3 separate regions of the Homo sapiens genome follow, and all the other regions are linked to region 3. Evidence: fine-mapped expression QTL. A gene starts in region 3. Each other region holds a variant in brackets. All regions are shown on one strand. Distances are from middle to middle.

The links. PIP is the estimated chance that this variant, and not a neighbour inherited with it, causes the effect. A credible set is the group of variants that fine-mapping cannot tell apart.
Region 1: its variant is the best candidate, but not a certain one, in a credible set for the expression of ZFP69B in lung (TOPMed, PIP 0.75).
Region 2: its variant is the best candidate, but not a certain one, in a credible set for the expression of ZFP69B in whole blood (TOPMed, PIP 0.52).

What each region holds. Positions count from the first base shown.
Region 1 is chr1:40,486,175-40,494,247 of GRCh38, forward strand. ZFP69 (ZFP69 zinc finger protein) reads left to right here. Exons shown (of 6, transcript NM_001320179.2): 4 at 2,914-3,040; 5 at 3,355-3,450. It overlaps EXO5-DT (EXO5 divergent transcript), which reads right to left. Exons shown (of 2, transcript NR_187365.1): 2 at 4,851-7,514. Among named protein-coding and RNA genes, the nearest start is that of ZFP69, 13 kb to the left of the region's middle. The variant C/T (reference allele first, on the strand shown) is at 3,781.
Region 2 is chr1:40,414,591-40,422,663 of GRCh38, forward strand. It overlaps SMAP2 (small ArfGAP2), which reads left to right. Exons shown (of 10, transcript NM_022733.3): 7 at 682-791; 8 at 1,586-1,751; 9 at 2,190-2,506; 10 at 7,386-8,073. The coding sequence ends at 7,511. Among named protein-coding and RNA genes, the nearest start is that of ZFP69B-DT, 31 kb to the right of the region's middle. The variant C/A (reference allele first, on the strand shown) is at 3,717.
Region 3 is chr1:40,447,435-40,455,507 of GRCh38, forward strand. ZFP69B (ZFP69 zinc finger protein B) reads left to right here and starts at 3,042. Exons shown (of 5, transcript NM_023070.3): 1 at 3,042-3,654; 2 at 6,769-6,854. The coding sequence starts at 3,528. ZFP69B-DT (ZFP69B divergent transcript) reads right to left here and starts at 2,605. Exons shown (of 5, transcript NR_198977.1): 1 at 2,386-2,605. RefSeq lists a silencer at 2,661-2,920 and an enhancer at 3,136-4,335.

The sequences.
Region 1 (8,073 bases), 39 kb after region 3:
CATAGCCTCCCAAAGTGCTGGGATTACAGGCATGAGCCACTGTGCCTTGCTGTGATTTTTGAGTTTATCCTTTTTGGGGTTTGCTGAGCTTCTTGGATCTGTGGGTTGATTTTTTTTCCTATTAGTTTGGAAAATCTTCAGCCATTATTTTTCAAATATTTTTTCTACCTATTCCCTCTTCTGAGATTGCTCTTTCTCCCTCCCTGCTTCCCTTCCTCCCTTCCTCCCTCCTTTCCTCCCTCCCTCCCTTCCTTCCTTCCTTCCCTTCCTCCCTCCCTCCATCCCTCCCTCCCTCCTTTCTTCCTCCCTCCCTCCCTCCCTCCCACCACTACCTCTCAGGCTTAAGTGATCCTCCTGCCTCAGCCTCCTGAGCAGCTGGGGCTACAAGTGTGCGCCACCATGCCTGGCTAATTTTTGTATTTTTTTTTGTAGAGACAGGGTCTTCCTATGTTGCCTAGGCTGGTCTCAAACTCTTGAGCTCAAGCAGTCCTCCTGCCTTGGCCTTCCAAAGTGCTAGGATTACAGGCAGGAGCCATCCCACCTAGCCCTGAGATTCTAATTACATGTATAATAGACCACTTGATATTATCCCACAGATTTTTTTCTCTTGGTACTCTAGTTTGAATAATATTTATTGACCCATCTTAAGTTTCACTGATCTTATCTCATCATGGTCTAATCTACTTTAAGCCCATCCAATGAATTTTTAGATATTGTCTTTTTCACTTGTAGAATTTTCATTTACAGTTGATTTTTTTTTTTTTTTTTTAAGATGGAGTCTTGCTCTGTCACCAGGCTGGAGTGCAGTGGCGAGATCTCGGCTCACTGCAACCTCCGCCTCCCGGGTTCAAGTGATTCTTCTGCCTCAGCCTTCCGAGTAGCTGGGACTACAGGCATGCACCACCATGCCCAGCTAATTTTTGTATTTTTAGTAGAGACAGGGTTTCACCATGTTGGCCAGGATGGTCTTGATATCTTGACCTCATGATCCGCCCGCATCAGCCTCCCAAAGTGCTGGGATTACAGGCATGAGCCACTGCGCCCGGCCTACAGTTGATTCTTGAGCAGCGCAGGTTTGAACTGTGCAGGTCCACTTCTATATAGACTTTTTTCAATAAATATATTGAAACATTTTTTGGAGATTTGTGACAATTTGAAAAAACTTGCAGATGGACCATGTAGCCTAGGAGTATCAAAAAAATTAAGAAAAAGTTAGGTATGTTATGAATACATAAAATATATGTAGGTACTAGTCTATTTTATCATTTACTACCATAAGAGATACACGTATCTATTATAAAAAGTTAAAAATTTTCAAAGCTTATGTGCACAGACTATTCATGGTGCCATTCTCAGTTGAGAGAAATGTAAACAAATGTAAAGATGCAGTATTAAATCACTACTGCATAAAATAAACTATAGTACACCTAGTGTATTAGTATGATAATTTTATAGCTATCTCCTGTGGCTATTGTAGTGCGCTCAGGTGTTTCAAGTATTTACTTAAAATTCAGTGTGATGCTAAGCATCTCTGCATTAGCACTTCATCTCTCCGGTAAATTGCATATCACAGTAAAAAGTGATCTCTCAGGCCGGGCGCGGTGGCTCACGCCTGTAATCCCAGCACTTCAGGAGGCTGAGGTGGGCGAATCACCTGAGGCCAGGAGTTCGAGACCAGTCTGACCAACATGGTGAAACCCGGTCTCTACTAAAAATACAAAAATTAGCTGGGCGTGGTGGCGTGCGCCTGTAATACCAGCTACCTGGGAGGCTGAGGCAGGAGAATCACTTGAACCCGGGAGGTGGCAGTGAGCTGAGCTCGCACCACTGCACTCCAGCCTGGACAACAGGGTGAGACTCTGTCTCAAAAAAAAAAAAAAAAAAGTGATCTCTAAGCCGGGCACGGTGTCTCATGCCTGTAATGCGAACACTTTGAGGGGCCAAGGCAGGAGTGCATGTGTATATACATACATACATGTGTGTGTTTTGTATGTATACACACACACACACACACATAGTTTATTCATGTGTTTTGATTTGTTCTATTTCCAAACCCTTTCGTCTCTCTGGTGGTTAAGGTGAGGGGCTCCTCCTAGAGCTGTGGCTGAGCTCTGGCTATCATGCAGCTTTAATTTGATTGAGTATACTTCTGATTAGCCCATGCCACAATTGCTGAGGGCTTTTCTTTTTATCTTTTTGGCATTTGAGCTTAGGAAGGGATTAGACTACAGTTCCAGACAGTTTTGTTCATTTTTGCATTAAACTCCAGCAGGGCCTCAGAATTCAAGTTCAGTAAGAATGCACAGGTCTTTGTGACAATAAGTGCGTGAGGTGGTGGGGGAACCCCTATCCCACCCTGTTCCTCATCTCCACCTCTCTTGATTTCATTTCTTTCCACTCTCTCATCAACCAGCCTACCTCCAGCCATGCTGTTCACTTTCCTGTTCCTCAAGCCAAGGACACTGTCACCTTAGGTCCTTTGCACCTGCCCAGGATGCTCTTCTCTCAGATTTCCATGTGGTTCTTCCCTTTACTGAATTTATGTCTCCGGTCAAACATCACCCTTTTAGAGAGTCTTCCCCAACCACTTTACATAAAAGATCATCCTACCCTCACTGTGGTTCTCCCAATGTCTCTTATCCTGCTTAATTTTTTTCTAAGGTATGTATCACCATCTGTCTTTCTATATATTACATTATTTATAGTAATCTCCAGATTAGAGATCCAGACAGACTACAGTTCCAGACAGTTTTGTTGATCAGATTTGGAGATCAGAGGATCTCCAAACAGATCCAGAGAAGGCTCCTGATAAAAGTAAGTTTAGAATCTCTCAGAATTTAGAATACTGTCAGAACTCCTTGGAACTTAACAGAGGTGGTCTCCGGCTAAAAATGAATGTATTTGATGTTCTAGGAATTGTTGACTTTCAAGGACATATCTATTGACTTCACCCAGGAAGAGTGGGGGCAGCTGGCTCCTGCTCACCAGAATCTATACCGAGAGGTGATGCTGGAGAACTACAGCAACTTGGTGTCAGTGGGTAAGACTTGGCTATCCATGCATCCAGAAACCCACCCATTACAGGAGAGTCATTATTTTAAATTATTGATGTGTAGATTCCTTGAGGCTTGATTTGGGTTCTGTATTAAAGATGTCTTATTCCCTTTGAAAACCAAGTGAGGGCATATCCAATTTGACTTTCTTGGGGAACAACTTTACTACACATAGTTAGGATAGAAAGACCCACCCCTTTCCACTTGTGGAGACCCTGAATACCAGAAGACTCAAAATTCTGAGGATGGTTCTTAGACATCAGCATAAACATTCACACTGTTTTTTTTACTACATAAGCAGGATATCAACTTTCCAAACCTAGTGTGATATCCCAGTTAGAGAAAGGAGAAGAGCCATGGATGGCAGAGAAAGAAGGCCCAGGAGATCCCAGTTCAGGTGAGACCAAGTGTGTTAGTCTGTTTTTGTGTTGCTATAAAGGAATACCTGAAACTTCATAATTTATAAAGAAAAGAAGTTTAATTGGCTAATGATTCTGCAGGCTGTACAGGAAGCATGGCACTGGCATCTGCTCCTGGTGAGGGCCTCAGGAAACTTACAATCATGGTGAAAGGCATATCACATGGTGGGAGCTGGAGCATGAGAGTGAAGGAGGAGGTGCCAGGCTCTTTTTCTTTTTCTTTTTTTTTTTTTTTTTTTTTTGAGACAGAGTCTCGCACTGTCGCCAGGCTGGAGTGCAGTGGCGCAATCTTGGCTCACTGCAACCTC[C/T]GCCTCTGGAGTTCAAGCGATTCTCCTGCCTCAGCCTCCCGAGTAGCTGGGACTACAGTTATGCGCCACCACGCTCAGCTAATTTTTGTATTTTTAGTAGAGACAGGGTTTCACCATGTTGGCCAGGATGGTCTTGATCTCGACCTTGTGATCTGCCCACCTCGGCCTTCCAAGGTGCTGGGATTTCAGGTGTGAGCCACTGCGCCAGGCTGGTGCCAGGCTTTTTAAACAACCAGATCTCATGTGAACTCAGAGTGAGAACTCATTACCATGGGGAGGACACTCATTCATGAGTGATCCACCCCCATGACCCAACACTTCCCACCAGGCCCCACCTGCAACACTGGGGATCACATTTCAACATGAGATTTGGAGGGGATAAATATTCAAACCAAATCACCAAGGCAGATGGAATTTTAATATGTAGGTCAGAGTGCTCAAAGCCTCGGCTGTGGGGAGGGCTCAGACCACTGGACAGAGCCTCCACTAAACTAATATCACCCGTCCCTTCCTTACCCCTTTCCTTCACTGAGCCCTTGCAAAAGTCCCCTGGAGTTGGAGGAAAGAGCAGTCTTGTCCTCATTAAGGTTGAGCTGGATTTTCCCTTTCTCCAGTATCCTAAGGGCTGCCAATCTAAAGCTTTCTCTAAGCAGTCAAATGTATGTGGTATTTTCACAGAAAACCAATCTCTTTCCAAGACTCCCATTGCATTCTACAAATCTTTAATTTTCCTGCACTCCATTTTTACTTCTTGCCAATGTTCATTTTACAATTCCAGCTTCGATTCTCATTCTCTTTTTAACTTATGTATCTTTTTTGTAACAGCTACTTATGAAAACTCCTGTAAGAGAAATTACCAAAGGATTCCTTCTCAACCAAATGTCGGGGTCCCTAACAATCTCCTCAAACTTTGCTTTTTATTCTGAAATATTTTAGACACTCAGAAAGGCATAGAAAACATTATAACACATTTCTGTGTAGCTTCCACCTAGACTAAGAAATGAAACACAGTTGAAGCTCCACTGTCCCCCTTACACCTTTTGAAATAAGCACTCTGCATTGAAATATTATTCCCATGTCTTCGTGCTTTTATTACATGTATAATGTAGTAAAAGCAGTCTATATATCAGTGTATACATACTAAACAATATATAGCATTGTTTTGCATGTTCTCTTTCTTTAAATAAATGGTATATATACTTCTTCCTTTTGCTTTTCTCATTCAACACTGGTGATATTCCTCAGTATGTTATTCTAGTTCATTCAATCCATTGAGTTAATAAACCACAATGTTCTTATTCATTTTCCTGTTGATAGACATTTACATTGTTTCCAAATTTGGGAGTTACAAAGATGCTACAGCAAACCTTTGTGTACATAACTTCTTGTATACATAATGCAAGTGTTTCTCTAAGATAGCTGGTAGAAGCAAAATTGTTGGGTTGTAGAATATATGCACTTTCATTTTGCTAGGTATTACCAATTTGCTCTTCAAAGCAGTTACACCAGGTTATTCTCCCATTAACAGGGTTTGAGAGTTTCCATAACTCAGCATCTTTGTCAACATTTGTTATTGTCAAACTTTAAGATTTTTGTAAATTCACTGGGTTATGGTATCTTGTTTCTTTCATTTTCCTGATTACCAGTGAAAGGAAGTATATTTCTCATGTTCATTGACCATCCATCCATCTCTTCTTCTGTCCTTACTCTAATGCCAGGCTCTTCTGTTAATTACCTGTTTATATCCCTTGCCAATGTTTCTATAATCTTTTTTTCTTATTGATTGGTAGAAAAAAATGTGTGTGTGTATGTGTGTGTGTGTGTGTGTGTGTATATATATATATATTCATTCTAGTATAATTATACATATATTCATTCTAGATAATAATCCTTGATAGCTTTATGTTTTGCAAATGTTTACTCTAGGTCAGTGGCCCATCTTTGACTTTTCAAAATTAGTGTCTTTTGTTAGACGTGAGTTTCTAAATTTAATGTTACTGAATTTATCAGGATTTTCTTTATTGTTTGTGCTTTTTAAGAAACCCTTTTATGCCTTATTATTCTTTTTTGTAAACTTTTTAAATTGTTTTTAGAGACTGGGTCTTGCTATGTTGCCCAAGCTGGCCTCGAATTCCTGGGCTCAAGTGATTCTTCTGCCTCAGCTACCTCACCTACTAAAGAGGCTGAGGCAGGACTACAGGTGCATGCTGCTGTGCCCTGCTATCCTCCATTTTATCATATATGTGGATCATACATATATGTTTTTACATATTCCTGTATTTTCAAAGTTTTGCTTTCCACATTTAGGTTTAATTCATCTGGAATTTATTTTATATAAATAAATTTGTATGTATGAGGTGGAAATCTGATTAACTTTTTCCACATGGATAATCAGTCCAGGAATAGTTAATGCTGCTCTGTCACCTGTCAAGTTTCTTTATATGTTTGGGTCTGTTTCTGTTTTGTATATTCTTTTTCTGTCGTGTTTCTCTCTTTATGTTGTTTTATTCTTTTGTTTTTCTGTCCTTACTCTAATGCCAGGCTGTCTTAAAAACTGTATCTCATAATGAGACTTAATATGTGGTAGAGGTAGTTCACCCACCTTGTTCTTTAAAGTTGTTCTGGTTATTCTTGGATCCTTGTTGTTCTATTTGAATTATATAATCAGAGCATCAAATCACACCCACAAATACTCTGCTGGCATTTTGATTGGAATAGAATTGAATTTCTAGATCAATTTTGGGGGAGTTAACATTGTTATGCTATTGAATCCTTCCAGGAATATGATATAGCACTCCATTTATTGATATTTCCTAATTTTTTTCAGTAACATTTCAGGATTTTCTCCTGTACATATTGTACATTTTTTGTTAGATTGATTCTGAAAATCTTATATTTTGTTGCTACTGTAGATGGTATTTTTTTTCCTTTTCTTTTCCCTGAGCCTCAGTCGTGAACAGGTATATTTTTAAAGAAAGATTATGTTGCTGGCCAGGTGCGGTGGCTCATGCCTATAATCCCAGCATTTTGGGATGCTGAGGCGGGCAGATCACCTGAGGTCAGGAGTTCGAGACCAGCCTGACCAACATGGTGAAACTCCATCTGTACTAAAAATACAAAATTAGCCAGGTGTGGCGGTGCATGCCTGTAATCCCAGCTACTCGGGAGGCTGAGGCAGGAGAATCGCTTGAACCCGGGAGGTGGAGGTTGCAGTGAGCCAAGATCACGCCGTTGCACTCCAGCCTGGGCAACAAGAGTGAAACTCTGTCTCAAAAAAAAAAAAAAAAAATTATGTTGCTAGTAAGTAATAACAAAATTGATTTTGAATATTGACCTTTTATACAGCCACCTTGTTTTACTCTTATTAATTCCAATCACTCTTTGTATATTTTCCTGGGTTTTCTCTTCCTCAACTTACAATAATGAAAATAATAATAAAAGCTACCATGAATGTTCTTTCCCAGCCTCTGGATGAAATCTCAAAGAGTTCCATTGATGATCCCGTTCCTTTAAATAACAAGAACAGTCTTGACTTTAGTAAAATGCCTATTTAGTTCAGTGCAATAATAAAAACTCCCAACTTCATTCAAAACTAAACCCTCTCTTCTTCCCCACTAGCTTGACACTCCCTCATGCTCGGATACTGAATTAGGGAGGGATGCATAAATGGCTTCTTTTCTTTTCCCCCATCATCTTCTTTTCCTCCTCCGCTATTCAAGACCAGAATCAGGGACCTGCAGAGCATAGATATTATTAGACATTATTATTGCCTGTTGTCATTTAGAATTTGACATTTTGAATTGCTAATGATCCATCTGTGTTGGCTAAAAAAAATCTTATAAGAAATTAAACCTTTCAGGAATACATAAAGACCTGTCAGTTGAAATATTAGTAATGGTGCAACAAATTTATCAAGTAAAAATCTTAAAGGTTAAAGGGTATTTTCCTAGAACCTAGCAGCAGTAACAGCATAGCAATCTGGGTTTCTTACAAGTCTCCTTTGTATAAGTAATACTTCCATGAACATATTAATAACTATAGAAAGAGAAATATATATATATACACACACACAAGTTTCAATAAAAGACAGCATAATGTTCTTGTGTGTATTCTTAGTTCAAACTGTATTTTCTGAACGAATGTCTCCTGCTGCTGCCAGAGTGGGGAGGGAAACATCTTCCTTTTATCTTTCTGAGATTGTTTTCCAAAAGTAGTTGTCAATTAAAAATACTTATATTCTTAAGTCATAGCTCTGAAATTTTATTACTTAGTATTATTAGAGCAGGACTAAAA
Region 2 (8,073 bases), 33 kb before region 3:
GAAGGATTAAATGAGATAATGCCTCTAAAGCTCTTAGCCCCATGCCTGGCACATACTGAGCCCTCCATAAATGTTAGCAGTTTTGCTAAACAGCACCTTTGAGCCTCATGTCAATTCCCTGTACTCCACTCCCTGCCCCCATTCCTTTCATTTTTCAGATGCAACCTGTTTCTGAGATGGCCTGTGGTCATTTTTCTCCAAACCTTTGAAATCCTGAACTAGTGATTCTGCCCTTTCAGAAAGAAAGCCTGTTGTCTGCCTTTCACAGCACTGATGGTTGCACTTTGTTTCCATCCGCTTCTGCTGATTGAGGTTATTGGCTACTTAGGCTTCTAATTTCTGTACCTTTCCTTGCTCTCTGAAAATGAACCCTCCTCCATACCTTGCCCTTCAAATAGCCAGAAGGGAGCCAGCCAGCCCCCCACTGTGGTGCTGAAATACCCTTCAGGCCTGGGCGTCTGCTGCCCTGTGCCTGATAGCTGGGCTACAGGCTTCCCCAGAGCACTCTGGGAATGTGGGGTGAAGCCTCTTTTGAGAAGCCCCGTCCATGCTAGATGGTTCCAGAAGTCTAGATTTCTAGGTCCATGAGCTTATGGGCCACCTTTGCTTTTTGTCTAGAATAGAAGGAAGGCATGGGCTTAATAAGCAGTGCTGCATCTTAACTTCGATCTCTCTTTCTAGATGCTCCTGTGGCCTGCTCCATTGCAAATAGTAAGACCAGCAATACCCTAGAGAAGGATTTAGATCTGTTGGCCTCTGTTCCATCCCCTTCTTCTTCCGGTTCCAGAAAGGTGAGTCTTGTGGGCTCCTCAGGATTAAAGAACATTCTGAAATGGGTGATTTTGATATCTTAATCATGGAACCACGTCATGCTTCCTTGGTGGAGTTGGACTTTGGTTTTCTTGATTCTTCATTCTTCCCTTAACATTGTGTCATTTCTGTCACAGTCTAAGATTGCTGTTCATGCCTTTTTTTCTCCTGCTCAAAAAGGGTGGGCCATTTGAGTTGCTTCTCTGGAAAGTGTGTGATACTGTGAAGGCTGATACTTGAGGCTAGCTCCTCGGCCTGAGTTACTGCCAGAAAATTGTAGGTAGGAAAGACTTGAAACCTTTAATGGCTACCATTCGTGAAACGCCTGCTATGTCTCAGGCACAGTGTGAGGTGGTTTTTGTATATCATTTTGTATATTTCATTAATAATTTCACTCCTTCACCACAAACCTGCAAAGTGGAAATTTTACAGATGTGGAGACATTAGTTTGTAAAAGTTATGTGACTAGCCTGTGGTTATACTAGTAAATGGCTACACTGGGGTCTAAACTCAGTTCCCTCTGCTGCATCATTTGTGGGTTGTTTTGTTTGTTTGTTCCTACCAAATCACATGTTTTGGTGAAAGGAAAGAATTGTAACAGAGCTTAATTATCAGGTGTGTTCAGATAGTTGAATGGTAAAAATGTTAGGAAGCTATTAACTTGAGCCATGAATTCTTATTGCAGATGTTAGGAGCAGCAGAGAGGGAAGGGAGACCCTTAAAGAGACCCCCATGAGAACCATTTCAATTCTCCCCCCGCCCTCTTTGCCCTAAGGTTGTAGGTTCCATGCCAACTGCAGGGAGTGCCGGCTCTGTTCCTGAAAATCTGAACCTGTTTCCGGAGCCAGGGAGCAAATCAGAAGAAATAGGCAAGAAACAGCTCTCTAAAGACTCCATTCTTTCACTGTATGGATCCCAGACGCCTCAAATGCCTACTCAAGGTAGATTTCATGGGTGTCATGGCCATGTGCCAGGTAGAGACATGAGGGCTTCCATGCAGGAATTATTTATTGTGACAGAGGACAGTTGCTTTGGGGGCCAGGATGTCATACACCAAACAAACCTGAACATGACCAACGTATCAGCAGATGGAAATTAATGTAACTCAGAGTCATACTTCTGTGGAGTCTGGGGTCACAATTCGGTGAAGTCTAGCTCAAGGTCTGGATCTGGACCCTAAAGGGAAAATGGCTCGGTCAGCAGCCCATTGGTAAGCTATAGCAGGCCTCGTAGGGACTCTAACTACTTTGCTGTGTAAAGAGCATTGTGAGTAGAGTAATCCTGAGAAATTCCAGCTGGAAAGGGTTAGCCAGGGAGAGTTCGGGCTGACTTTATGTTTTTCCCTCTTTAACCAACCTGTATGTGTGTTTTCTTGGCAGCAATGTTCATGGCTCCCGCTCAGATGGCATATCCCACAGCCTACCCCAGCTTCCCCGGGGTTACACCTCCTAACAGCATAATGGGGAGCATGATGCCTCCACCAGTAGGCATGGTTGCTCAGCCAGGAGCTTCTGGGATGGTTGCCCCCATGGCCATGCCTGCAGGCTATATGGGTGGCATGCAGGCATCAATGATGGGTGTGCCGAATGGAATGATGACCACCCAGCAGGCTGGCTACATGGCAGGCATGGCAGCTATGCCCCAGACTGTGTATGGGGTCCAGCCAGCTCAGCAGCTGCAATGGAACCTTACTCAGGTAAGCTACCCCATTTTACTTGCAGCAAGAGTTTTGAGCCTTCCTCAAGTTTTTCTCGGTTTGTACCTCTCCACTATCCTTTGAATCCTTTCCATGTAGATGAGATAATGTAAGAGACATTGTTAGGTTTGCTTTTTTTTTTTTTTTTTTTCCTAGAAGGTCTGTCTAAAGTCAGACTTTCTGAGGAGTTCTGGGCTCCTGTAGAATAAGCCCAACTGCCTAAATCTGAATCTCTCCACACATTCTCAAAAGCAAAAACAAACACACAAAGAAACCCTGTACAAACAATGAATGCAGATATTCTCACAACAATCTCATTTGGTAGACAGAATACTGCAAGGTTCAAATGGCATGGCAATGGGCATATAAACACCAAATCCAGCGGAGCCAGCATCACAGAGGAGACTGTAAAAAGAGAAGATGGAGCAGGGGCCTAGCAATAATACCACAGATAAAGTAACCCCCCAGAAGGAGAAGGACCTACCCTCATCAAAGACATACTGAGAACAGGTCTGAGATGTGGTAGATTAGAACTCTGTTTACTTGGAGGATCAAAAATAAGAGACTTCAGATATATAGGAGTATAGGTAGTAACCTTGGGAAAGCATTGCTTCTCGGGGAGATGGGCATGGCCTAAAAGGAGGAGGTACCCTTTAGAGGACTGGTGGTGAAGGAAAGAAAGACACGAGAAATGGGAATGAGAATCACAAAATCAAATATACACCTTCTTCCCTCTTCCAAAATAACCACTTCACTAATAAAAGATGGTGCTCTTAATCTAAGAAATTTAGTAAGCCTCCCCAAACCTTCACACCTATTATTGCTGATTGAGAAAAAATAAGACCTTACAAAAATGAACCAAACATGGAAGCTGACATTTGTACACAACTACTACAGGAAGAAAATAGAAAATGAAAATCAAAACATTTCACGTAATGAATATTCTCCCTCAAAAAACAGTCATGAAGCAGAAGAAAATTGTTACACAATCTACCAATCTGAATTAAATGTCCTTAAACATTTGCAGATAAGACAAAACACCTTAAATCAGAAATTCAAAAACTTAAAGCCAAAATGGATAAAAAACTGCATGCTGTGAAATGAAAGTTTACTAAACTCAGAAAAGAAATTGAAGAAAAAGCCAAAATTTTCGTATAAAGACTCAATTACAAGTTAGCTAAAGAACAATAGATTGAGCTGAAAATATATT[C/A]GGCATTGAGGAAAGGCATGAAACAGCTAAGAGAATGAAAACTAAATATAGAAAGTAGTAAAAAGAATTAGATGGAAATTAATATGGAAGTTAGGCAAAGAAAACTTACATATATTTGGAGATGCCCAAAGAAATAAAGACAAAATAAATAAAATATGGGACAGTATTAATGTGTTTAACACCAGAAAACATTCTAGAAATAAAAGACTTGGATATAATATGGAAAGAGCCCACTGTGTGTCTGGGAAAATTGACCCAGAACAGTCAACTTTAAAACATATCCCAGCAAATCTACAGACTTTAAAGAACATTCAAAATGTTTAGGGGTCCAACCTTTTCCATACCTCCTACCCACAAAAATCTGTTACTTAGAACAAACAAAAAATACCCAGGTTGACATCAGACTTCCTAGCAGCAAAATACAAAAAGAATAACAAGGAGAGTAGTATTTTAAAGACACTCAAGTGTATGCAAGACACAACAAGTATTTTACAACCAAGCCAGCCAAGCTATCCTTCAGGTATCAAGGCTGTAAAAAATAAATATGCAAGAACTCAGAGAATATCACACTTACAAGACTTTCCTGGGGAATCTAACAGAAGATAAGCTTCATCCACCTAAGAGATGACTGGGGTCATTTTCATTTTTGGCAAAAGAACTGATGGTGAGAATTGAATGTTTAATTGAGAATCTAAGACTAAAACAAAGGTGGTGACAAGCGTTGCAGAATATACATTATATTCTGACAAACAAATACAACTGAAAATGAAGGAGGAGGGAGAAAAGTTGAATAATAAATATTGTATGGGAAAGAAGTAGAAATCGAAGGATGCAATAAGCTGACAAACCAAATCACGGAAGCTTGAATAAGGAAAAAGGAGACCAAGGACATTGCTAAAAAGTATTACTATGAAGGTAATCACTAGAACAAACACGTGAAATGTTCTGAATACCAAGATAATTTTCTTCCTTTCTTTTTTTTTTTTTTTTTTGAGACAAAGTCTCACTCTGTCACCCAGGCTGGAATGCAGTGGCACAATCTCGGCTCACTGCAACCTCCGCCTCCTGGGTTCAAGTGATTCTTCTGCGTCAGCCTCCCGAGTAGCTGGGATTACAGGCACCCGCCACCACACCCGGTTAATTTTTTTTGTATTTTTTAGTAGAGACGGGGTTTCACCATGTTGGCCAGGCTAGTCTCAAACTCCTGACCTCAGGTGATCCACCCACCTTGGCCTCCCAAAGTGCTGGGATTACAGGCATGAGCCACTGCGCCCAGCTGAGAATTTTTAAAAACAGACTACAAAGTGCAGCAAATACAATAAACACAGTAAAAATCTAATATGATGGAGTTGAGACCAAACATACCAGTCATACCAGTAGGCAACTCTTCTATCAAAAGAAAATGATGTTCAAATTGGCTAACAAAGCAACACTAGTTTTGCACTAGGTACAAAGAAATACAAAGTGATTTAATGTGAAAACCAAGAGACAGGCAAAGGAACCCCAGAGAGGTGGTATGGTGCATGTGTACTGCACATGTGCATGTATAGCTATCTTTATCAGGGTTATACTTATTTATAAGAAGTACTTTTATGTTTTTGTTTCTCTGTGGTCCAGAATAATTTATGTAGCTCTGGTCTTTGAAGGTTTTGTGGAATTCCCATGTGAAGTTTGTGGGCACTATTGCTTTTTTTGTAGCAAATCTTTGATACTTTTCTCTGTTTCTTCTATGGAAGTCAATTTTGGAAAACTGTATTTACCTAGATTTTCCATTTCGCCAAGGTTTTCAAATTTATCAAAAGTTATGCCTAGCAGTCTCATTAATTTTTTTCAAAGAACCAGGATTTCGATTTATTGGTGCTACATTTTTCCGTTTTCTACCTCAATTTCCGTAGGCTTTCTATGGGTTTACTTTGTTATTTTCTAGCTTTCATAGTGGAGATTTTAATTCACTTATTTTCATTGTTTCGTTTTTATTTATATAAGTAATGGAATGCTATAAGTCTGATGGGAATATGTCAGAGGGACGCATGAGCCAACTTCCAGTGGCTCTGACTGGCCAAATGTGAGACAATTTGAACATCAAAAAGAGTAACAACAGTAATGGATTATGACACACTGAATGGAAAAAACAAAACAAAACCATGAGTCCACGGTGATATTTTTTAAAAACCAGGTGTGGAATGGAGGGAGGAAAAGCCTTCTTTACAGAAGAATGACAGTAGTTGTAAAAAGAGCAAAGGATTGACACATTTGCAAAGAAATGCCCTTCAGATTATTTATTAATTATAATGAAAGAAATATAGTCACTACCTCAGCCAAGTGATCAAACATAAAATTACTGACAGAGGAACAAAGTAATGTCATATGCTTCCTGATATTTTGTACTAAGAAAGACATGTGTCACCTCCATAGAATCTTGCCAAAAATATTGAACCTCGATCCAATTATGAGAAAACATGAGATGAATCCAAATTGAGGGGTATGCTACAAAATAACTGTCCTGGGTTCTTAAAAATGTCAGTGTCAGGAAGAAATGGAAGGAAGTGTTAGGGAAACTGGTCTAGCTTAAAGGAGACTACAGAGATCTGAAAATGAAATGCCATGTACATTAGAATATGGTGTTAATGTTAAAATTCTTGAGCGTGTTCATTGTTTTGTGGTTCTGTTAAAGTGTTCATTCTTATGAGGTGCCTCCTGACTTAGGAATGAAATGTCGTGATAGCTGCAGCTTTTTTTTTTTTTTAATCTGCAACTTTTGATACTCATCAAAAAAATGTAAGTTTTTTTATAGGGAGGGAGAGAAAATATGGCAAATGTTAACAGTTGGTGAATTTAAGGAAGAAGATACATGGGTTTTATTGTACTATTGTTTCAACTTTTATGTCAGTTTGAAATTTACTTTAAAAGTTGGTACAAGAAAATAATAGTTTCTCCTAAAGAAAAATAACTTATATAGAAAATTTACTAGGCTTAGGAAATTCAAGGCATTTTTCTCCATAAAGTATTTTTCTGTTCACTGCTAGGGGCCAGTCTTTCCATCAGATTCATGAAGGACCCCCGCCCCATCCTGCCCCAGGCCTTATTCCACTGACTGTTTTCTCCCAGCTCCTTCCCTTCTTATACACTGAAGACACATTAGTCTTCCCCCGCCCCCGCCCCGCCACCGCCTTTGTTCATTCTGAACAGTCCAGTTCCTTTTTTTCCCCCTTGTGCAAACGAGCAAGCCTGCTCAAGCGCTTTCCCTGACACTGACAGTAATAGCTGTGCTGAAGATGAGGCGGGAGCACTGGGGAGGGGGCTTTCCTTTCAGCTTTTAGGATTGGCCAGGCAAGTTAACAATAGGCCCCTTCTATTTAGGATGAGGGACTGGAAAGGAAAAAGAGAGGAACTCATGCTGATTTTCTGTCGACTAGATCCAGATGCCAGGATGCCTTCTTTCCCTCCCTGAGCTTTAGTCTCCGTCAGCATTGCACTCCCAAAAGGTCATTCACGTACGTGGCCTTGAAATGATCTGACTGCTAAGGTCCAGGGTTTACTGTCCATAACAGAGTTTCCCTTTGTCTCATTCTCCCCATCCTGGCAGAGAAAGGGACTCTCACCCTGCCTTTTGCACTAATTGGCGGAATGCCCACAGCCTGGTCTGAAAGTCTCCTCTCTCCCTTTCAGATGACCCAGCAGATGGCTGGGATGAACTTCTATGGAGCCAATGGCATGATGAACTATGGACAGTCAATGAGTGGCGGAAATGGACAGGCAGCAAATCAGACTCTCAGTCCTCAGATGTGGAAATAAAAACAAAACACCTGTATGGCTGCCATTCTCTTCAGCCCTCGCTCTCCCCTTTCCACAGCCTCCACCCCTGACCCCCATCCTCTTTTCCTACCTCTCTGTTTGGTTTAGAAATTGCTCAATAAGTCATTTGGGGTTTGGCATCCTGCCCAGCCACTTCCCAAACATGAAGACCTCTCTGTTGCTTTATGTTGTACATGCCCCATAGCCATCCCAACGTCCTCCCCAGTCCTCTCCTGGCACCAGCACCTTAGAAGTTGTTGGCAGAAGGCACTTAAACTGTGGGAGAAGTGTGCACACCTTTGAGTCCCTTCCCTCAAGGTTAAAGCTCCTGTCAGACTCTCAGAAGGGTCTGTGGGTGTTGTATATTAGGCAAACAGGGGAAAGCTTAGAGGTCCTTCTATATGTGTTAATAAGCTGTTTCTAAGTGTTTAAATTTGAAAAGCATCATGTTCTCATGATTTATGGGAATGAAGCAAGTACTGAAATCAAATTAAATACTCCCTGGGTCCTGGGTCAGTTTGACCCTAGCCCTGGGGTGAGGCAAGCCCCCTCCTATGAGGAT
Region 3 (8,073 bases):
AGAAAAGGCCTCAGAAGGAAACCTACCTTGCTCACCCCTTGATCTTGGACTTCCCAGCCTCCAGAACTATAAGAAAATTAATTTCTGTTGGTTAAGCCACCCAGTCTATGGTATTTTGTTGTCAGCCAGTGAAGACTCATACTGTTCCCCAAATGGCTAACTAGTTGTCCTAATGATATTTGTTGAATAATCCATCATTACCCAGCTGCTTTGAAACGCCAGCTTTACAATATACTAAATTTAAATAAAGTGTCAAGTCTGTTTCTGAGTTTCCAATTTCATCTCACTGATTTCCGAGTATATTTTGGCACTAGTTTTATTTTGATTATTTTGCCTCCATAATACAAGGTAATATCTGGTAGGGCAAGTCTGCCTTCATTATTGTTGGAAAACATTATTGGCCATTCTGGAACACTTGCCATACTAGCTAAACTTTAGAATCATTTAGTTTAGTAAAAAGAAAAGTTGATTTTCTTTTTTTTTTTGAGATGGAGTCTTGCTCTGTCACCCAGGCTGGAATGCAGTGGCATGATCTTGGCTCCCTACAACCTCCACCTCTTGGGTTCAAGCGATTCTTTTGCCTCAGCCTCCTGAGTAGCTGGGATTACAGACACACACCACCACACCCAACTAATTTTTGTATTTTTAGTAGAGATGAGGTTTCGCCATGTTGACCACGCTGGTCTCGAACTCCTGAGCTCAGGTGATCCACCCGCCTTGGCCTCCTAAAGTGCTGGGATTACAGGTGTGAGCCACCATGTCCGGCCGAAAAAGTTGAAATTTTGATTGGGATGCATCACAGTTTATGTGAACTGGAGGAAGAGTGACATACTTAGAATGTTCTATTTCAACTCGTGAATGTGTTGTATCACTATTCTCACCATTTAAACAAAAAATTTGGAGTTTTATTTATAATTTCCTGCATAATTCTTGTTTATTCTTAGCTGTATTTTTCTGATATTTTATTATGAAAACATATACATATACAGAAAAATTGAAAGAATTTTACATTACGGCATCCCTATACCACTACTTAGATTCTACCATTAACATTTTATTGTATTTCATGCTGTATTTTTGTTGAGTAGCAGATAGGAACATAGACTGCCTGTGTTCACCACTTGTAAGCCACATGATCTTGGCAAGTTATTCAACTTCTCTAAATCTCAGTTTTCTTATCTGTAAAGTGGGAATAATAATAGTACTTACTTCCAGTGGTTTCTGTGATGACAAAATAAGTTAAAATATGAAAGGCACTTAGGACAGAGCCTCATATTCTGTAACTATTATATGCTAGTGTATTCATCAGCTTGGGCTGCTGTAACAAAATACCATTGACTGGGTGGCTTAAACCACGGATATCTGGCCGGGCGCAGTGGCTCATGCCTGTAATCCCAGCACTTTGGGAGGCCGAGGCGGGCAGACACCGAGGTCAGGAGTTTGAGACCAGCCTGGCCAACATAGTGGAACCCCGTCTGTACTAAAAATACAAAAAATTAGCTGGGCGTCGTGGCGGGCGCCTGTAATCCTAGCCACTTGGGAGGCTGAGGCAGGAGAATCGCTTTAAGCCAGGAGGCGAAGGTTGCAGTGAACCGAGGTCACGCCACTGCAGTCCAGCCCTGCGGACAGTGCGAGACTCCATCTCAAAAAAACAAACAAACAAACAAACAAAAAACCGGAAATTTATTTTCTCAGTGTGGAGACTAGAAGCCCCAAGTAAGGTCGAGTTGGGTTCGTTTCTGACTAGGACTATATTCTAACCTTAATTACTTCCATAAAGGCCTTATCTCTAAATACTCTCCAAATACAATGGAGGTTAGGGCTTCAAGATAAATTTTGGGGAATCCAAACATTCGGTTCATAACAGCTAGCAAGTACTATAATTGTATTCTATTTCCTCATTTGTTGTTTTTGTAAACTGTTGATGTAGAAATGTATTTGGAGTGATGTACTCAAATTTTGTTGGAGGGAGAAAACTCAGCAATAAAACAGCATTACAGTATAATCGCTTTTGTGGAAAATATATAACAATGCATGAAATACGTTGTGTGTGTGCAGGAAAGGTTGTACACCAACTGTTAGCAAGGTTACCGCTGCTTGCTGAAATTACAGGCAATAATTTTTTTGTTTTTGTGTATTTTCTGGCATTTCAGAAATACAAGGTAAGCAATAAACATGAGAACTTTTATTGAATACTAGAAGAGAAAACTGTTGTGGTATTCTTTTAACAATATACCGGAATCCATTCAACTGTCTGCTGAGAATAAATAACTGGCATGTACATAATATTTAGGGAAAGTGCTATGGATTATTTTACACCAGTGTCGTTTCACCAAAAAACGTGATGCCGATGGCTCCCTTTTGTCACGGGTTTCAAAGGCTCACCCTAACGTTCACGTGCATTTTCCCAGCGGAGGAAAGATGGTTGTTCTTCATCAGAGTCTGGGGCCCAAGAACGCAGGCTCCATCTCCTCCCGCAGGAGCCAGGCTGATGATGCTCGCAGGGATCGGATACTGGGAGCCCCTGAACGCAGCCAACCCGGCGCGCACCGGTGGGGGCGTCTGCGCTGGCGGAGCGGCTCCCCGGGAGGACGCTGGGAACCATGCTCTAGCCAGCCGCTGCGCAGGCGCACTGGGCCCCGACTGCCCGCCGCAGCGCTACGTGGGAGCTTGGCCGCGCAGTGCCGGAACCCGGCTGCAGCGGTGGGAAGGCGGGGGCGTGCCGGCCCAGCGGGGAGAGGGTGAGCGGGTGGCTGTCCCGGGCTTGGGGAGCTGGGCGAGCCGGGAAGCGCGAGTTCCGCCCGCGGCCACCCTGTCGCGCGCGGTGCTCTCCGCAGCCCCGGAGTCGTGCTCAGACAAAGGCTGGGAGGCTAGGGCCGGGGGCGTTTTGCTTTGTGGGGAGGACTTAGCCTCTCATTTGGGGAGGAGGAGGCGGGGTCTAGCGGTTTCGCGGTTTGCTACAGCCGACTAGTGAAAGAGCTGGGATTCCAAATCCCCGGCTACTTTACACATAATTACTGCCCCAAACAAAGAATTGGGTTGTATTCGTCTCTTTGTGCTTCCTGACATGTGCGCGGTGCTTTGAATTTTGTGGGCTGTGTCTGCCCACCGTCTCCGTGTATCTTTTGGAAACATTTTACAGTGATCCATATATGTTCTAGCGTTCTGCCCTATGACTGAGCCTCCTTAGTCCTTTGCTGATTCTAATGTCTTCTGCTCAGCATCTGCAGGGGCTGCTGAGAGTAAATACTTGGCGCCTCCAGCTGCTGGCCAAGGAGACAGATGGAGCTCAAGTTGGGAGATACGCCCTGAGAGCCGATGATAGACACAAGTCCAGATCTCGGATTTTGATACTGTATGTTCCCTGGGTTCCTGAGAGAGGACATTGAGGAGTAGGAGTCGGCGATTAAGGAGATCGGTACAATTGGGAAGCCTCCTGTCAGAGCTTCCAGCAATTTCCTCATCAGAGGTGGACAAGCCCTATGGGCTAAGACAGAGGGTCCTCAGAAAGGAGTGCGGACGCCGTCATGCTGCAGCAGCTCCTGATCACCCTGCCCACCGAGGCCAGCACCTGGGTGAAGTTGCGTCATCCAAAGGCGGCCACGGAGCGGGTGGCCCTGTGGGAGGATGTGACTAAGATGTTTAAAGCAGAAGGTAAGAATAAACTGATGGGTGGGAGGGAGGAAAAGCAGTCCCCTCTAGTGTGAGAAGGAATGAGTCACTTGAGTGGAAGCATCTCTTAGGGAGACGAGTGGGTGGAGGGTTTCCGGAGTTGTTGATTGTGGCTCCTAGTCTGGGGTTTTCCTAAGTAGTGGTGGTCTTTTCAGCCTAGGACCAGTATTTCAGTGTCATGGTTATGTATATTATTTATTTTCATCTTTCCCATGGCCATGTGGGGCAGGATGGACTTAACCTGATTTTTCTTATTCTAACAGTGGGGAAATGTAAATCAAATGGGAGGCCTGCCCAGGGTCACACAGGAACTTGGTGGCTAGGTCAGAAAGAGAAGCAGCAGGGGAAGTACCAGGTGAGCCTGGAGTAACTTGTGCTAGAAAGCAAGGAAGAGCTTAAAGACTATGGATATGTGTCAAAAGAGGCCAGGTTTAAGGGTCTCTCACTCGACAGATTTGGGAAAGCTTAAGTATCCAAACTGATGGTAACACCTTGAATAAGTAAAATTCCACATGATCACCTTGACACTTAAAATAGAGAAAGACGTGGGGGGGGGGGAATTCATTTGCAAACATTGGAGGTAATTAATACACTGATTCCTTACTTTGAAAAATAGGTTATTATGGGAATGAATGTGCATTTACCTTGCCTTTTAGATCCTCTTCAGTTGGTGAGGGAAAGCTTTTTACAGAAAATGCGTGCCAATAATGAAGGTAGAAAGAGGCCAGGTGTGGTGGCTCATGCCTGTAATCCCAGCAATTTGGGAAGCCAAGGTGGGCGGATTGCTTGAGACCAGGAGTTTGAGGTCAGCAGTTTGAGACCAGCCTGGCCAACATGATGAAACCCCATCTCTGCTAAAAATACAAAAATTAGCTGGGCGTGGTGGCACATGCCTGTAATCCCAGCTACTCGGGAGGTTGAGGCACGAGAATCGCTTGAACTAGGAAAGGGGAGGTTTCAGTGAGCTGAGATGGCGCCACTGCACTCCAGGCTGGGTGACAGAGCAAGACCTTGTCTCAAAAATAAATAAATAAATAAATAAATGTAGAAAGAATGATAGAATCTTTTACCGTAAATAAAATAATTGAAAGGTTAATGGGGAACAGATACTCACATGATATCAAAGTATTATCCCCTCAAATTACTTACTAAATGGCAAGGAATGAACATAATTTTCCAATAGTGAGGTGTGGTGGTCACAGTTTTAATCAAATGTCTCAGTAATGGGATAGCCGGGCATTTTATACTTTGCAGATACTGTAATATAAAGCACCTGGTACCACCTACAAGGTATTCCTACCAAAAATGTTGAACATGATCCTAAATTAAGTTTAAAGACTGAACTGCTGGTTTACAGAAAATACAGGGGATGGAGAAATGAGATAAACCTCACATTGAGGATACAGTCAGACTGTTCTTGTATCTTAAAAAGACAACATCATGAAGAAAGGGGAAGTACTTATTCTAGAGTAAAAGAGACTAGAGGTAACAACCACTTTGAATGTGTGAGCCTTGATTAACTCCTGGTTTGGAAAAAATCCAGAATAAAAGTTGAGGAAACAGTTGAGGAAATCTGAATATGGACTGAATATTTAGATGATACTATGGAATTATTGTTAATTTTCATAGATTTAATAAATAGTACTGTGGTTGTACAAGAGAAGATCCTTATTTGAAATATTTAGGGATAAAGTATTATGATGCAGACGACTTTGAAGTGCTTCAGAAAAAATGTAGATAGGTAAAGCAAATATGGTAAATATTAACAATTGTTGAATCTAGATGTGGATGTATAGATGTTCAATATTCATGATAAAAAGTTGGAATAAAATACAAAGACAGTTATTCATGTGCCTTAATTCCTAGTGGTTTTTTTTTTTTTTTTTTCCTGTCACCCAAGCCGGAGTTCAATGGCTCGATCTTGGCTTATTGCAACCTCTGCCTCCCGGGTTCAAGTGATTCTCCTGCCTCAGCCTCCCAAGTAGCTGGGATTACAGGCGCCTGCCACCACGCCCAGCTAATTTTTGTATTTTTAGTAGAGACGGTGTTTTACTATCTTGGCCAGGCTGGTCTCCAACTCCTGACCTCGTGATCCACCCACCTCAGCCTCCCAAAGTGCTGGGATTACAGGCTTGAGCCACCGGGCCTGGCCTGTAGTGCATATTTTTAATACCTCAATTCAGCCAGTGTTACTTAAATTCTAGAAAGCTGGCAGTGTGTTATGTGTAGCACTTTAGCAGATGGAGAAAAATGAGCAAGGTACAGTTTCTATCCATACCCTCATTAATACTCAACTGAGAGAGATAATTAATTATAAAAAGCAACCTGAGATAGATACTAGAATAGATATAAAAACCAAGCTTTTGGGAAGCATAGGAGAGAATAAACTTTCTTCTCATTAAGGGTGTCTGGGAAAACTTTACTTGAACTGGGCCTGAAGGGTATCGCAGTTTTTCACCAAATAGGATTTGGGTGGGGTACTATCCACATGTATTCAAAGAATGGTACCAGGATTGTGTGGGTAGGTGTGTCCAGTGGATGAAGGATAATGTTTAGAGGAGATAATACTTGGAGAAGCCATGGACTGGTTGTGGAGGATCTTGAAATCTATGTTGATTAGTTGGGCGTGGTGTCACACGCCTGTAATCCCAGCTACTCGGGAGGCTGAGGCACGAGAATCTCTTGAACCTGGGAGGTGGAAGTTGCAGTGAACCAAGATTATGCCACTGCCCTCCAACCTGGGTGACAGAGCAATACTCTGTCTCAAAATCATAATAATAATTAAAAAATAACAAAAAAGAAATCTATATTGAAGTGTTTGCATTTTTCTTTCATGTCAGTGGGGAAACCTTTGAGGATTTTTGAACAAAAGATTGGCCTGAGAGATTACTAAGACCATTGGGAAATATTAATGGTGAAAGCAGCTTGCAGCAGGTCCTCCTTATTAAGGAGGCTTTGAGCTGCTCTTGAGTCCGTCTAAATGTCCCTGTTTGTGAACGTTTTTGGGGAGAAGCCACAATGAGTGGGTCTGTAGGCAGTTTCTCTGTTTGGGTGATTTGGGGAGATGCAAACCTCATGGCTCTTTTCCTTCCCCAGCTCTGCTGTCTCAGGATGCTGATGAGACCCAGGGCGAAAGTTTAGAGAGTAGAGTGACCCTTGGATCCCTGACAGCAGAATCCCAGGTGGGTTGGAGTTTCTGGTCACTTTCTTGACATTGTTTCTCAGATTTTAAGAGCGCAGGAGTTTGATTTTCTTTGACTCAACTTCCTGGATTGGCTTTTCTTTTTTTTTCTTTTTTTCATTATTTTTTGAGACGGAGTCTCACTCTGTCACCCAGGCTGGAGTGCAGTAGCGCAATCTCGGCTCACTGCAAGCTCCGTCTCCTGGGTTCACGCCATTCTCCTGCCTCAGCCTCCCGAGTAGCTGGGACTACAGGTGCCCACCACCACACCTGGCTAATTTTTTGTATTTTTAGTAGAGACGGGGTTTCACCGTGTTAGGCAGATGGTCTCAATCTCCTGACCTGGTGATCCACCCACCTCGGCCTCCCAAAATGCTGGGATTACAGGCATGAGCCACCACGCCCAGCCGATTGGCTTTTCTTAGCCTGTTCTTCCTCAGAAAACCAGGCCACATCAGTTGATTTCACAGGTAATCTCCCCACCAGTAGTAACCCTCCACAGGAAACCTCTTGTTTTTGCAAACCTCTAGCCATTTATCCAACAAATACATTGTGCTGAGGCCGCATGTGTGTGTGAGAGAGAAAAGGAAATAGAGAGGAGAAGAAGTAATGTAATGTAGTCCTAGCCCATGAAATTCACATATCATCTGGGAGAAAGACAAATATGAGTCATTTTAAGCAACATTTAAAAGTCAACAGAATCAGTTTCTGATATTCTTGGAGATGTATACACTTCATTGATGACCTTTAAGTGAGGATTTTTGGTCAAGTCCTAGAGCAGAACTGTAACTGAAAAGAGAAATGAGTAGAGAAGATACTGGCAGGTCATGAAGAACATGAGCTAAATAGGCTAAGCAGAAAAGGAAGGAAAACTTCTAATAGCAGTTTAACAGTGTGCCGTGTGTCCTAAATGAAGTAGTCAGAAAACTGATAGCATTGGCAAAGCTCTGCACTACCAAACCCCAGAGGCATAGGGAAACTCAAGAAAATTAGAGAGTAGTCAGAGAAACATAAGAGGGTATTATTAGAGAACAGAAGAGTTTAGAGTGATCTTGGCTCCCAAAATCACATGGTTTAATCATGTGTTTAAATCATAGGGTTTAATCCTATGTCTTCAACTTTTCTCAAATTCAGCTTTCTCATAGGTTAAATGTGGATGCTAACATCAGCCTAATAGGCCTGAAGGGCATTTCAGAATTATTTACAATACGAAACATTAA